Linked DNA regions of Homo sapiens: regions 2 and 3 are each linked to region 1. The links come from fine-mapping of genetic effects on gene expression. A gene starts in region 1. Each other region holds a variant in brackets. All regions are shown on one strand. Distances are between the middles of the regions. Region 1 holds the start of MRPL1 (mitochondrial ribosomal protein L1). Region 2 has its middle 91 kb from the start of FRAS1. Region 3 overlaps CNOT6L (CCR4-NOT transcription complex subunit 6 like).

The links. PIP is the estimated chance that this variant, and not a neighbour inherited with it, causes the effect.
Region 2: its variant is the best candidate, but not a certain one, in a credible set for the expression of MRPL1 in monocytes (BLUEPRINT, PIP 0.55).
Region 3: its variant is the best candidate, but not a certain one, in a credible set for the expression of MRPL1 in whole blood (GTEx, PIP 0.53).

Annotation. Positions count from the first base shown.
Region 1 is chr4:77,861,572-77,864,345 of GRCh38, reverse strand. It overlaps MRPL1 (mitochondrial ribosomal protein L1), which reads right to left and starts at 1,516. Exons shown (of 9, transcript NM_020236.4): 1 at 1,467-1,516. The coding sequence starts at 1,497. RefSeq lists enhancers at 969-1,068, 1,429-1,828.
Region 2 is chr4:77,964,981-77,967,754 of GRCh38, reverse strand. No RefSeq gene overlaps it. Among named protein-coding and RNA genes, the nearest start is that of FRAS1, 91 kb to the left of the region's middle. The variant TTC/C (reference allele first, on the strand shown) is at 1,043.
Region 3 is chr4:77,740,789-77,743,562 of GRCh38, reverse strand. CNOT6L (CCR4-NOT transcription complex subunit 6 like) reads left to right here. Exons shown (of 12, transcript NM_144571.3): 8 at 1,268-1,422. Among named protein-coding and RNA genes, the nearest start is that of CNOT6L, 77 kb to the left of the region's middle. The variant T/C (reference allele first, on the strand shown) is at 1,611.

The DNA.
Region 1 (2,774 bases):
GAGGCTGGGGAGAGGAAGAGGAACCAGCCAAGTAATGTGAGAAAAAATGACACATGAAATAGGAAGACAATTAACAGAGAGATATCCTAGAAGCCAAGAGAAGAAAATGTGACAAGAAAATTATAATATTCAGGTATTTTTGGTTTCTTTGGATTTGTGTAACATAACGATTTCTGTCATACATGAAGATGCCTTCAACCTCCTTTCAGAAATAATATACATTTTGGTTTGCTCACAAAGTAGGCATCAGGGTCTGTTGTTATCTCTTGTCACCCCTAATTTTTGAGCAATAACTCTCTTGACACAGTTTTCCTAAAAAGAAACTCAAAAAAAAAAAAAAAAAAACTGTGATGCAGTGTTAAATATACATGTATCACTGACCTAGGATTGCAAGCTTCAGTACTTCCTCTGCCATTTACTAGTTATATGAACTTGGCCACATATCTAATAAGTTCAGTTTCTTCCTCTGTAAAATGGGGGTAATGCTGGCTACTGCTTCTACCTAAAGACCTACCTAAATTAAACAATATATATCACTGGACTTCAAAAACACAAAATAAAAGCAAAAAGCGTTGCACAGGCCGGGCGCAGTGCCTCACGCCTGTAATCCCAGCACTTTGAGAGGCCGAGGAGGGCGGATCACCTGCGATTAGGAGTGCAAGACTAGCCTGGTCAACATGGTGAAACCCTGTCTCTACTACAAATACAAAAATTAGCCAGGCATGGTGGCACACGCCTGTAGTCTCTGCTACTCGGGAGGCCGAGGCAGGAGAATCGCTTGAACCTGGGAGACGGAGGTTGCAGTGAGCTGAGATCGCACCACAGCACTCCCAGCCTGGGTGGCAGAGCGAGACTGCCGTCTCAAAAAAAAAAAAAAAAAAAAATTGTTGCACAAGAAAGGGCTGTCATCGTAGACAAAAAGTTGAAATTATTAAGATGAAAAGAGGCGCTACCAAGAGGTACTACAGAATTAGCCCCCTCAAATGATAAACGTTGATCCAAATTAGACCACCTATGGAAGTTTAAGAACTGGAATCGCCTATAACGAAGTAATTCCGAAAGCACCAAAAAGCACTTTGAAAATTGCTCTAATTTACAGACTTAAGCCACTCAAATACATCATCTTTCCCTTATCAGAACTCACCTCACTTATCACACTCCACTACCCGCAGCCCACACCCCAGTATCAGAGACGACCCAGTCCTTGCCATGCCCATAGGTGGCTGGAGGGCGCTCGATGTACGTCCCGCTCCCACTCCCTCCCTCAGGGTGGACGTCTCCAGAATGGAGTGAAACCCTTCATAAGGTCACTTTTAAGTAGTAATGACCCACCCTCTGAAAAACCTAGAGACCAGAAACAGCACGAGGCATTTTCAGCACCCAGAGCAGAATCCGCCTTGCACTCTGCTGCAACCAGAGACTCGGTGCCAGAGCCATTTCCCCTGCAAGACAACCCCTCGCCTTACCTCTACCCATGCACCTTACGGCCGCCGCCATGTTGGGCACTCCGGATTGCGTTCACGAAATTGTTCCTACGTTTCTACTGGGAAGAATTAAAAAAAGGTTCCGTTCTAGAATCCGCAAAGAGGGAAGGAGTTAAAAAGAGAAAGAGGAACGGGGCGGGGACCAAAATGAGCTTTGCTGCCGGCGTGGCGGTGTTACTGTTAGTCCTCCGTGTTGCCCAGGACCCTGTGTGTTTCGTGGTTCCGGTATGGCTGGTTAACCACCTTCGGGAAAATACGATCCTGTTGGCGATGCTGTGATTATTTTAATCCTTCCTTCTTATTCTTTTTCTTTTTTGATCCTGCAAGTGTACTCAGAGCGACAATTTTAACAGGCTGTGAGAGTACTTAATACCCAACGTAAAATCTTGAAAAACAGGAACCCTGAAACCCACTAGCTTCCTCCGCCACTTTTCCGGCCTTGGAAAGACTTATTTTAAAAATTCTCTAGGCGTTTTCGCCGCTACCCGAGGGAGGTGTCCAACTCACTGACAAACTTTTTTTGCTAATTGTCAAACTTTCTGTCAGCGCAAGATCAACCTTAGCTTTAAAATCTTAAATTAATCTCTACATTTACCCCCTGCTGGCAAGCGAGTAGACTTACCATTAGGATCAATTGAATAATAATACTTGACATTTATAAAACATTTCTAGTTTTAAAATGGCAGCTCCAAGACCCACGCACAAGTTATTCTGATAGGAAAAAAAAACAAAAACAAAACAGAATGAGTGTACTTTCCATTACGTCACAGCTGTCGGTGTGGTTTATCTAAAACAAATCTGATTACGGATTTTATCACTTCCCAGCTTACCTCCCCCACAACACACACACACACACACACACACACACACACACACACACGTTTCTCACCTCCATAACTTGGTTCATTCTATCTTCTCTGCTTCGTGTGTACCGTACCCTACATCACCTAGGTAACTTTTTAAAGATTTCGCCTCAGGCTGTGTTTCTTTTAAACAGTTTTGAGATATAATTTACATAGCATACAATCTACCAATTTAAATTGTACAATTAAATGGTTTTTAGTGTACTCAAAGAGTTGTGCAGCCATCACCACAATATATCAGTTCTTGTCACCAGTCTGAGCTTTTTATGGGTAGAAACCATCTTACTCATTTTTGTAACCTCAGCACATACTTCAGTGCCAGGCCCATAGGAGGCTCTCAGTAAATGTTTGCTGAATAAATGAATATATGCATACATGAATTAGTGACTCAATTAGAATGGCAAGCCTGCAAAATTAACTTGCTTCA
Region 2 (2,774 bases), 100 kb before region 1:
ATTCTTATGATCATTTTATAGTAAAAAAGATTGAGGCTTACAGAGGCAAGTGAATGCCTTACACATCTTGTAAGGCTTGGAGTTAGGAGTATGACATTCAGCATAAACTACTAATGCTAAAGCTTATTTCCTGACTTCCTTTTCCTTAGATCTCTGGTTTCATCCACTACTGCCAAACTCTTATCTATCTATCCATCCTTCCTTCCTTTCTGTTTCTGCCTCATGTTTTAATTATCTTTTACCTTAGATTTTAATTATCACCTTTGTTTTCTCAGCATGGCCAAACATTTTTAAAGACATAACTCTTTCTTTAACTTTCTTCTTTGAAAACCCCTATCTTTAATTCATTGCCATATTTTTTAAATTTGAATTTCAAGCAACATGCTATTATCAATCTATATCATACCATAATCAACACATCCAACACATTCCAGAACCTTACAGACCTTTAAAGCTACATACTCTCCAGCGAGCCCCTAAATTGTCAGAATTCATGCTTTTTTTTTGAAACGGAGTCTCGCCCTGTTGCCCAGGCTGGAGCGTAATGGTGCGATCTTGGCTCACTACAACCTCCACCTTCTGTGTTCAAACGATTCTCTTGCCTCAGCCTCCAGAGTAGCTGGGATTACAGGTGTCTGCCACCAGGCCCAGCTATTTTTTGTATTTTTAGTAAAGACGGGGTTTCACCATGTTGGCCAGGCTGGTCTCGAACTCCTGACCTCAAATGATCCGCCCGCCTTGGCCTCCCAAAGTGCAGGGATTACAGGCGTGAGCCACTGCGCCTGGCCTATTCATGCTTAATCCATTTGTATCATCTTTCCTCCTCTGTCACCCACTTCCCCTAAATTACTTTGACCTATGAAGCTATAGCAATCTTCTCAGAATTTTCCCTAGTCCAAATGAAAATAAAAGATTAAAAAATTAAAATATAAAGGAAGAAGAAAATTTTAAAACTAAACAGAATTAAACTTAAACTACAAGTAAACCAGCTCCTCAGTTAGTATGACAACATAATAGATTTAAATTATAGCTTTTTTTTTTT[TTC/C]TTGAGATGGAGTTTTGCTCTTATTGTCCAGGCTGGAGTACAATGGTGAGATCTCGGCTCTGCCTCCCAGGTTCAAGCAATTCTCTTGCCTCCCAGGTTCAAGCAGTTCTCTTGCCTCTTGCCTCAGCCTCCCAAGTAGCTGGGATTACAGGCATGTGCCACCATGCCTGGCTAATTTTGTATTTTTAGTAGAGATGGGGTTTCTCCATGTTGGTCAGGCTGGTCTTAAACTTCCAACCTCAGGTGATCCACCCACCTCGGCCTCCTAAATTTCAATCAGTCTCCTACAGGGACAACCAACAATAATACTTGGGAAGATTGTAAGATTCAGCAAATTACCTTGTACCTTGAGGTACAGGAGGCAAAAGTGTTTGAATCTTCCATGACACTTCTAACCAACAGTGTGATTGTGTGGAGCAGTATAGTGAGGAAAAAAACAACCCTGAGACCTCATAGAAATCAGTGGGAAAGTCTTCTGTGATTCACATCATCTGTCATGTGCCTGATGGGGATGGGGAATGGTAAGAATCTGTGCCATAAATTTGCAGACTCTATTCTAGGTAAGAGCAGTAATATTTAAATTGCATAATGTATCAGAAATAACATCTTAAAACCTTATAGACTTGACTTTACCAAATACTGGGATTTAAATATAAAGAGGAGGTAGGGTTCAAATCAGCTGGGTATCCTAACCAACCTGACAGGATTCTTCATTACACTGCATAATACAAACAGAATTAACCCCTCTCCCAGGAAGGCAGTAACTTGTTGGGAGTCAGAAAATAACAGATTTCTTCCATCTCTAAGTCTTTTTATTTTTAAGAAGTTATTTTATGAATCCCATAAAACTCTAGATCACCATACTACAACTTTAATCAATGTAGAGTGATATTCTAACTTCTGTCTCCTCCACTCACAGGATTTTTAAATCCCTCAAAAATTACTGGACAATGTCACATTTAGCAAAATGATTAAAGTGAAAAAATAATGAACCAAGTATTGGCAAGAATATGGAGAAGTTGGAAATCTTCCACACTTTTGGGAATGTATATTGGTACAACTACTTAGGAAAAGTGTTGAGCATTGTAATGGAGCATGTTACTATCCAGCAAGTTCACGCTTAGGTATATATACAACAGGAATGTTTATGTATATATCTTGTGCACTTCTGTTGGTGAATATATATATATGTTCACCAAACTATATATATACTCATTTTCCTCATGTATATATGTTCATCTTATCTATACATATGTTCATCGCCCTCATATATATATATATATGTTCACCAAACGTGGACAAGATATAAATATGTGCGTATAAACTTGGTACAAAAGTAATTGCTGTTTTTAATGGCAAAAACAGCAATTACTTTTGTACCAACCTCATACATACATACAAATACATATATTTGTGTACACACACTAATGTGTATATATAAGCATTTCTGTTGTATATATACCTATGAATACATATATATTCTTTTCACCAGAAGTGGACAAGAATGTTAATAAGTAGCATCATTGTAATAGCCCTAAAACTTCACAAGAAGAAATATACAAAAATGTTCATATCAACGTTATTTGTAATACCCCAAACTGTAAAAATCCACATGTCCACCAACAGTAGAATGGATATTTGTGATACATTTAAGCAATGGAATATTATACAACAATGAGAACGAACAAACTACAACTACACACTGGATGAATGTCATAAATATAATGTTG
Region 3 (2,774 bases), 120 kb after region 1:
TCTTTTCATCATAGCCTGAGAGGAAAAATTATTAAAAATTTTTTTATGTAACAGAGTAGCTTGATAATTTATTTTTAGGTTGCTTGGGAAAAAAGTAAAAATCTTTTAAAATTAAAATAAAATTTCTTCTAAATACTGAGACTAACAGAGAATTGGGGAGAGGAGGCGGCAAACAAAATCAGGCTATTGTAGTTTCTTGTCTACTTCTTGGTTTAGTATTTGTAGTGATAACAGCCTCACACCCTCCTAAATATAGCAGTTTGAAGGATAGAACATAATTTAAGAAAATTGTCTTATTATAAAAGCAATGCTATAATACTATACTGTATTAAAAAGAGATCATTCTAGAGAAGTTGAAAATTTTGAAAAAATATAAAGCATGATGGAGGGAAATACCTAATTTCATGTCATAAGATAGTTGTGTTAAAACTTCTGGAGTATTTTTCTTCTATACATTAAGTAAAATATATTTACAGATACATTTTGATTCTTATTTATTGTACTTAATGGATTTTCCATGTTACTAAAATTCTTCAAAACTCATTAATTATATGAACGTATATTGATGTAGCTTTTCCCATACCATTGGACACATTTAGTTGTTTATGGGTTTTTGCTGTCATAAACTCATGCTGTTAGAAACATCTGCATACATAAATTATCTTCATATTTATTTCATTTAGAAAGACCTGTTAAAATATTTTATGAGTCAAAGAATAAAATAGACTAATAATTATTAAATTAATAGAGGCCATTGGATGATTGCGATTTAGGTACTTAAAAATTTCTTAAAGTAGAATTTTTTGTGGATAGATTTTACGTTTCTCACTCTTGGGTATCATTTCTTTCCACCATAGTTCAGAAGGATATGCAAGTTTTTAAATTACCTTTTTATATATAAATTACTATTCCCTATCACAGAATCTATCATATACCCAACTTGCTTTGTTTAGTTGCCAGTCTTGAGGAAGTAAAGTATAATGGAGTGAACTGTAAATTGGGAATCAAGAGACCTTGGGATGTAGTCCTACTCCTGTTACTATCTGTGTGAGCATGAGAAAATCATGTCACCTTTCTGGTTCTTTCATGTTTAAAAAGCTGCCATTGTCAAGTAGCAGCTGCTAGCAATCAGGTAAGATAGTAAGATAATATTTGCTATGTGAATTATTTTTACTAAGTTACATCTTACTCATAATGCTGAACATTTTTATATCTTAATCAGCATTTTCCCTCTGTCATATAGATGATAACTTTTCTTTCATCTCAGGAAGTGGAAACAGAGCAATACTTCACTCTCTTTCTGCCAGCATTGAAGGAGCGTGGATATGATGGATTTTTTTCTCCAAAGTCACGTGCCAAAATCATGTCTGAGCAGGAGAGAAAGCATGTAGATGGTTGTGCAATATTCTTCAAAACAGAAAAGTAAGTTAAGGAAACAAAGCACAATGGTGTACTTTTATTTATTTAAATGCTTACACTTTAAAATTGTCTTTGGTTTTGCCCTATAAAATCAACAGAAAGCTAGAAAACAAGTATTATGCAACTTAAAACTGTTGTTAATGTTTCATTTCTCAGGCTGTGTATTCGAAATAAGGATATTTATTGTATTA[T/C]TCCTTATGCTTTTATTACCAAATAACACTGAACATTTTAAGAGATACAGACTTGAATGGTCTCATATTTCAGAACATATTTTCATGAAGTAAAGTATTAGTTTTTGTGTAAAAAAAGAAAGTGATACCTTTTAAGGTTGGCCATAAGTGATCTGGGTTTCTTTTCTGTGATTTTTTTTTAATAATTGATTTTTGAGAATCATTCATTTTAAAATCATTTATTCACTAAATGTATACTGAGCATTTGCTTTGTGATAAGTCCTGTGCTAGACACAACAGACACAAAGATAGTCAAGACATAGTTCCTAATCTCACTGAAAGCTCAAATCCAGTAGGAAAAACTAGGCATATAAGACAATTGCAATATCATATGGTGTAATATAAGATAGAGGTCTGCCTGGGTAGATAAGAGAGGCAGGCACAGAGCATATGGAGGTAGAGAGTTAAAAGGGTTGACTGAGACAGGGCAATGGAAAATGAAACGTGACATCTGATAGAGGTTGAATCCCATGGTTAATAGTTTGGATTTCATACGTTAGGAAATCATCTTACAGGATAAGCATATACATGCTTACAGCTGTTTTCCAGTATTTCCCCATTTTACATCTATTTTACCAAAGCCAATCTGTTTTTATTGATCCAAGCATATTACCAGCATGACATGCTATTTTAAGTAAACAAATTCAATGAATTTGAAAGATATTTGGTCCACTTCCCATTTATCTATGCCTACTTTCCTGTCTTTTCCATGAATTTGTAGTAGAGATATTCTTATTTTGGTTAATAATTAGTACAAAGCCTTGTAGTATTTGAGGTCAGAATATACTAAATTCTTCTAATGGTTTGGTAATTTTTTATGCATTTTAGAATAATTCTATTAAAACTACGTATCTCTTAACTACGGGAATATGTTCTGAGAAATGCATCATTAGGTGATTTTGTTGTTGTGGGAACATCATGAAGTGCACTTACACAAACCTAGATGGTACAGCACTATACACCTAGGCTATAAGGTATAGCCTGTTGTTCCCAGGCTAGAAACCTGTACAGCATGTTACTGTAGTAAATAGACAATTGTAATACAATGGCATTTGAGTCTAAACATATCTAGACGTAAAAAAGGTAATGTATTGTGCTGTGATGTTAAGACACCTACATCATCAC